2 linked regions of the Homo sapiens genome follow. The gene in region 2 interacts genetically with the main gene of each other region. Each region holds a gene or a part of one and is shown on either strand. Other genes may lie near its edges.

Region 1 (3,752 bases), on a different chromosome or scaffold from region 2:
GTGATCCAAAATGTATTTTACACACACACACCACAAAGAGCCAACGTAAAAATACAATAAAAATATTCATAATATGAATGGAGTGATGGTGTTCTTGGACTTGTAAAAATTTCTCTGAATTTAAAATAATCTTCAATTAGTGTATATAATTTTTCTAATCAGAAAGAATACTTTATTAATTGCCTATAGTCCCAGCACTTTGGGAGGCCCAGGTAGGTGGATGGCTTGAGCTCAGGAGTTCAAGATCAGCCTGGGCAACATAGCGAAACCCCATCTCTACAAGACATACAAAAATTAGCCGGGCATGGTGGCTTGTGCCTGTGGTCCCAGCTACTCAGGGGGTTGAGGCAAGAGGATCATCTGAGTCCAGGAGGTCGAGGCTGTTGTGAGCCAAGATTGCATCACTGCATTCTAGCCTGGGGGACAAAGTGAGACACTGTCTCAAAAAAAAAAAAAGACTATTTGATTAATCAAAATTTTGAAGGAGATCGTTGAGAGCTCTCTCTCTTGGTTCAGCCTCGCTTATCAGGTAGAAAAAGTGAAAGGAAGTTGAAAGGAGTGACTTAGTGTAGAAGGTGTTGAAAGAGAAAGTGACTTAACCAAGAAAATTATGAAACATAATTTAAATCCAGCTACTCAGTGCATAACATGAGCAGCACGTCAAGGAGAAAAAAAAAGCCACATAGAAAAAATGATGTTAAATTACTTACTACTGACTAACTCTGCACCTATTTCAAACTTGCCAGCTTGGGCTACAGGTCTTAGGAGAGCAGGTGCGGCCGGGCGCAGTGGCTCATGCCTGTAATCCCAGCACTTTGGGAGGCCAAGGCAGGCAGACCACCTGAGGTCAGGAGTTTGAGACTAGCCAGGCCAATATAGTAAAACCCCATCTCTAATAAAAATACAAAATTAGCTAGGCGTGGTGGTGCACGCACCTGTAATCCCAGCTTCTCAGGAGGCTGAGGCAGGAGAATTGCTTGAACCTGGGAGGCGGAGATTGCAGTGAGCCGAGATGGTGCCACTGCTCTCCAGCCTGGGAAACAAAGTAAAACTGTCTCACAAAAAAAAAAAAAAAAAGAAAAAGTAGAGCAGGCACGTTAAGATGTGCATGTGGTAGAAGGCTGTGGGGAGGACACATGCAGGTACCAGATAGTAAATTAACTAAATCTTGAAAATGTATCTCCAAGCATTACCATTTGAAAATTCATCAGGACTTCCTTCAAGGCTGCTGCTTCTCTCTGAATTAAAAGGGGAAACCCCAAACAATATTTGATTAGAAACAACTGTGATATGGAGCGATTTGTCAGTTTCAATTTTAGAGTAGGTTTTGCCGATTCCCGGCTGTCAGGTTGTTTCTACCTTTGCTGAATTCTTCATAGTCGTTGATTATCTTCAGCAGGCTCTTGTTGATTTGGGCACAGACTCTTTTCAGGATGTCCAACTTTCCTTCTCCCAGGATGACCCTCTTCTCCATCTCTATGAAAATATCCAGCAGGTTCTAAGAGGAGGAGAAATAAAGTTGGGAATCTGGATTGAGCCCTACTGGTTTTTAGATTAGATTTTTTTTTTTAATTTCCAATTTCTCCAACCAAGGACCTGCCCTTGCTTCCCAAGTTTCTGACAGTTTCTGCTGGTCTCTCACAGCCAGCAGGCTACTAGGGAAGCGATTCCATGTTTTCTGGCCCAGAAAGACAGAAGTGAGAGGATAAAGGAGAAGCCATGTCAGATGTCACCCAGTCCCCAGGCCCTGTGCTCAAATCTCCTGCGAATGCATTACTTGGGGACTGTGAAACAACCTGAGACAGCAGCCCGGTCATCATGGTGACACCCTGGGGAACAGCCTCACCCCCAGCATTGCCTCTCCAGACCTGAGTACATACAGACACACAGACACACACACACAGACACCACATGCACATACACACACAGATACAACACACACAGAGTATACTCAGTGATACACACACAGGGGCATAAATACAATACACACTACACAACACACAGACACACATACCACACAGAGAACACACACACAGAGATACACAGACACACACACCACTTATACAGAGACACACAGAGATACACATATCACACACAAATACAGACACACACTATACACAGAGAAAGGCACACACAGACACGGAAATACACACACAACACACAGACACAATATACACACAGAGTTTCAGGTCCCAGGTTGTTTCGGGGACTGCAGAAGTGGAGGAAATATCTCAGACCCACCGCAGTCTTTCCCAGCTCTGCCGGGTCTGGGCTGCATCTGCACAGCCTCCTTCTCCCGGCCTCTGACTCTGCCTTGCTCCCAATAATTAACATGAGCAGCACTTCGGTCTAAAGGAATCACATCTGTAACACTCGTGCTGACAACTTTCTTCTTCTAGTTAAAAAGTGAGAATCCAGGTTGCTTTTACCAAAATACCCCTCTCTTTGGTCTCAGAAATGCCCCCTGGCTAACCAAGTCTCAGGACTAAATCTCAGTAAGATACCAGGTCTTACCATGTCATCATCCAGTTTGCATTTGGAGATTTCCTCTTGCAAAAGAAACTTAAAAGACCTCAATTCTGATCTGCTCACTTCTTCTGAAATCTGATAGAGCATGACCCTGTGGTGGGAAATGGAGACACTTTAGAAATCTTTTCCCAAATAATTTCCCATTTGATATATGGAGTCACAGTGGGCTTGATTCCAAAGGCCTCCCTTCAACATAAAGCCAGTTAATGGCATGGTTTATGAGTTGAGCCCTTGGAAAGAGGCTGGTGTGGTGACACAGAAGTCTACTGGCTCCTCCCCGACTTTCCCACCCTTAACAATTTAAAGTTCTATCAACTTTTCTTTCAGTTTATTTCAGTTGAGTAAATCTTGTTTTCCTTTTTTTTTTTCTGTAAAATGGAGATTTTGTTGCAATAGCAAAATGCTTTGCCTTTTGGAAATTATGCTTTTCAAAATGCACATTGGCTCATGACTTCCCTAATCAAAACTGGTCAGTATTCTCCCAGTCATTATCTTCAGTAAGACGGCCAAGCATTCGGTTCTGGAATACAAAGTCTCCGAATACATCCCTATCACAGACCAGACCGCAAACACGAAAGGACCTGAAGCCAAACACACCCAGCTGCCCTGCCCTCACCCCTTTCTGTGGTGCCGCTACACCCCATCCCCTTGTCTATCTGCAGAGGCCCATCCATGAACAATCAGCTCAAGCATTGCCTGAGCATCCTCAAAGCTGCATTCACTCCACTATGACTTAGTAACCCCAAAACGATAACACACATAATTGTCTGTTGGCCTGGTGCAGTGGTTCATGCCTCTAATTCCAGCGCATTAGGAGGCCAAGGCAGAAGGAGGATCACTTGAGCCCAGGGGTTTGAGACCAGCCTGGGCAACATAGCAAGACCCCATCTCTACCAAAAACATTTAAAAATTAGCCGGGTGTGGTGGCATGCACCTGTGGTCCCAGCTACTCCAGAAGCTGAGGTGAGAGGATCACTTGAGCCCAGAAGGTTGAGGCTGCAGTGAGCTGTGATCATGCCACCACACTAAAAATAAAAACAGAAAATAATTGTCTGTTTAGAAACTGTTCAAGTCCCCTAGTGGCCAGGTCCGTACCCTTTTTATTTTCATAAACCCAGAGGGTTGTGAGGTGCAATGATTGAGCTCAGCGGACCCAGGCTATTGGTGTTGGAGCCTTGGTTCCACTATCTTTGAGCAGTGTTAACTTTAGACATGTTACACAT
Region 2 (3,752 bases):
TATGTAATATATTTTACATATTATATTGTGTTATATATTATATATATTTTACATATATTGTATTATATATTATATATAATATATTATACATGTAATATATTATATACTATATTATATATATCATACATTATTATATACATATTATATATTTTGATATTATATATGATATATCATATATTATATATTAATCATATATAATATATTGTATATAATATAATTTATATCATATATATTATATATCATGTATAATATATATTATATAATATATATAGAAACACATATTTCTTTTATAACTTAAAATACTCAAAGGCCGGCACAGTGGCTCATGCCTGTAATCCTGGCACTTTGGGAGGCCAAGGCGGGCAGATCACATGAGGTCAGGAGTTCAAGACCAGCCTGGGCAACATGGTGAAATCCTGTCTCTACTTAAAATACAAAAAAGGCTGGGTGTGGTGGCTCACACCTGTAATCCCAGCACTTTGGGAGGCTGAGGTGGGTGGATCACGAGGTCAGGAGTTCGAGGCCAACCTGGTTAACATGGTGAAACCCCGTCTCTACTAAAAATACAAAAATTAGCCAGTTGTGGTGGCGTGCGCCTGTAATCCCAGCTACTCGGGAGGCTGAGGCAGGAGAATTGCCTGAACCCAGGAGGCGGAGTCTGCAGTGAACAGAGATCGCAGCCATTGCACTCCAGCTCTGGGCGACAGAGCAAGACTCTGTCTCCGAGGGGAAAAAAAGAGATACCAAAAAAAAAAAAATTAGCCAGGTGTGGTAGCACACGCCTGTAATCCCAGCTACTTGGGAGGCTGAGTCACCAGAATTACTTGAACCCAGGAGGTGGAGGTTGCAGTGAGCTGGGATCATGCACTGAACTCCAGCCTGGGTGACACAGCAAGACAATGTCTCAAAAACAAATAAATAAAATAAAATATTCAAAATACCCTTTTATTTTTTTTGAGTCGGAGTCTCGCTCTGTAGCTCAGGCTGGAGTGCAGTGGCGCAATCTCGGCTCACTGCAAGGTCCGCCTCCCGGGTTCACACCATTCTCCTGCCTCAGCCTCCCAAGTAGCTGGGACTACAGGCGCCTGCCACCACGCCCAGCTAATTTTTTGTATTTTTTTTTTTTTTTAGCAGAGAGGGGTGCCAGGATGGTCTAGATCTCCTGACCTCGTGATCCGCCCGCCTCAGTCTCCCAAAGTGCTGGGATTACAGGCGTGAGCCACCACGCCCGGCCTTAAAATACCCTTTTTATGTTTTGAATTCAACACCTAAAATAACATATCAAAAATGTGAACATGTAAAGAAAGATGGGGTCATTGACATGCACAATCCCACAGCTAATTGGAAACAAAGTCAATAACCTGTACTGTGGTACCCAACGTAGGGCTCTTTCCAAACACTGTAGCACATGACCTCTAAGATACAGAAACAGTATTTGTTAAATTCTAAAGTATTTTTTATCTTATCACTACTGTTTGTCTCTTCATATCTACTCACACAATGTCCTTTAATAGTGCTAACAGGTTACATTTTATAAAACTATTACCAGATTATCTCACAGAGATAAAGCTTGAGAATTGACAGCTCATGATAATCTCCCAGCCTCAAAAGAACAATGGAAAAACAAACAAACACACAAAAGCAAAATAAAAACAGACGAACATAAAAAAGCAAAAAAAAAAAAAAAAGAAGAAAGGCGGCCTGGTGTGATGGCTCGCGCCTGTAATCCCAGCACTTTAGGAGGCCAACGCAGGCAGATCACGAGGTCAGGAGAATGCGACCATCCTGGCTAACATGGTGAAACCCTGTCTTTACTAAAACACACACACACACACACACGGTGAAACCCTGTCTTTACTAAAACACACACACACACACACACACACACACACACACACACACACACACACACGAGAATGCGACCATCCTGGCTAACATGGTGAAACCCTGTCTTTACTAAAACACACACACACACGGTGACACCCTGTCTTTACTAAAACACACACACACACACACACACACACACACACACACACACACACACTCTAAGCCGGGTGTGGTGGCGGGTGCCTGTAGTCCCAGCTACTTGAGAGGCTGAGGCAGGAGAATGGCGTGAAGCCGGGAGGCAGTGCCTGCAGTGAGCCAAGATCGCGCTACTGCACTCCAGCCTGGGCAACAGAGCCAGACTCCGTCGTCTCAAAAAAAAAAAAAAAAAAAAAAAAAACAGAAGAAAGGCATTTGTTTTGCCATATTTATCCTTGGAATCCTACCACATACTACAATGAATGCCTGGAACACATTAAGTGCTCAATGAATGTTTATTTCATAAACTGTAGGTTTTGCTCTCTGCTAATACTACCTACCAGACTTAAATATTAGACCAAACAAAAACAGTGAAATATCATTATTTTATCGCTAAACATTTACAATATAAATACAGGATTTACTAAAGAAATTAATGTTTACAATGAAATAAAAGGAGAACATTTATTTACTAAATTAGTAAATTTATTTAGTAAAATTTATGTTACTAAAATATTTTAAGCACTATACAAATTAGCTGGTCCATTAATTATAATAATTTTGAGAAACTGCTCACTTCCTGAAAATGAAAAAAAAAAGGAAGACAAAATAAAATAAAAACCAAAGAAAAAAATAATAATTCTTAACTATTGAAATGGTCCTGGCTAACCTTTAGATATTATTACTTTGTCAGCCTAGTTGGAATCATCCAATGCACTAGAAAGCAATAAAATTACAGGTATAGTACAAGGGCCACTAGACTAGAACCTAGACTCTAGTCCAAGCTTTGCTAATAATCAGATATATTACGGTGGGCAATATTTTTTTTGAGTCTTAATCTATTTCTAAAAACGAGACAGCTGGGCCAGGTGCAGTGACTCACTTTTTCACCTGAGGTCCCAGCACTTTTTCACCTGAGGTCGGGAGTTTGAGACCAGCCTGACCAACATGGAGAAACCCCGTCTCCACTGAAAATACAAAATTAGCCGGGCGTGGTGGCGCATGCCTGTAATCCCAGCTACTCGGGAGGCTGAGGCAGGAAACTGCTTGAACCTGGGAGGCAGAGGTTGAGGTGAGCCGAGATCGCACCATTGCACTCCAGCCTGGGCAACAAGAGTGAAACTCCATCTCAAAACAAAAACAAAACTAGACAGCTGAACTCCTAATCACTATAAACTGTTTTAGTCTTAACTTTTTATTTGTTTTTGAGGTGGAGTCTCACTCTGTGGCCCAGGCTGGAGTTGAATGTTGCGTTCTCAGCTCACGGCAACCTCCGCCTCATGGGCTCAAGTGGTTCTCCTGCCTCAGCCTCCCAAGTAGCTGGGACTACAGGGGTGTACCGCCACACCCAGCTAATTTTTGTATTTTTAGTAGAGATGGGGTTTCACCATGTTAGCCAGGCTGGTCTTGAACTCCTGACCTCAGGTGATCCGCCCACCTCAGCCTCCCAAAGTGCTGGGATTACAGGTGAAAGCCACCGCACTTGGCCCTAGTCTTAACTTTTTTAAAAAATATGTTCTTATCTACAAAGAGTCTACAATTCAGATTTTTGTTTCTTTGTTTTGTTTGAGACAGGGTCTCACTCTTTCGCCCAGGCTGGAGTACAGTGGCCCAATCATGGCTCACTGCAGCCTCCACCTCCCAAGGCTCAGGTGATCCTCCTGCCTCAGCTCCCCAAAGTAGCTAGGACTACAGGCACAAGCCAGCACGCCCGGCTAATTTTTGTATTT

Evidence for each region. Genes that interact genetically often act in the same process or in processes that back each other up.
Region 1: of XIAP (region 2) and CASP8, changing one suppresses a phenotype caused by changing the other (phenotypic suppression), as found in Homo sapiens cells (one study listed by BioGRID).

Annotation. Positions count from the first base shown.
Region 1 is NC_000002.12:201,270,384-201,274,135, reverse strand, and holds part of CASP8 (caspase-8 isoform 2 precursor), read right to left. Parts: intron 2,621-3,752; coding exon 2,515-2,620; intron 1,499-2,514; coding exon 1,360-1,498; intron 1,239-1,359; coding exon 1,194-1,238; intron 1,034-1,193; coding exon of another isoform or gene 936-1,033; intron 1-935. UniProt on the Homo sapiens protein: Thiol protease that plays a key role in programmed cell death by acting as a molecular switch for apoptosis, necroptosis and pyroptosis, and is required to prevent tissue damage during embryonic development and adulthood.
Region 2 is NC_000023.11:123,862,928-123,866,679, reverse strand, and holds part of XIAP (E3 ubiquitin-protein ligase XIAP), read right to left. Parts: intron 1-3,752.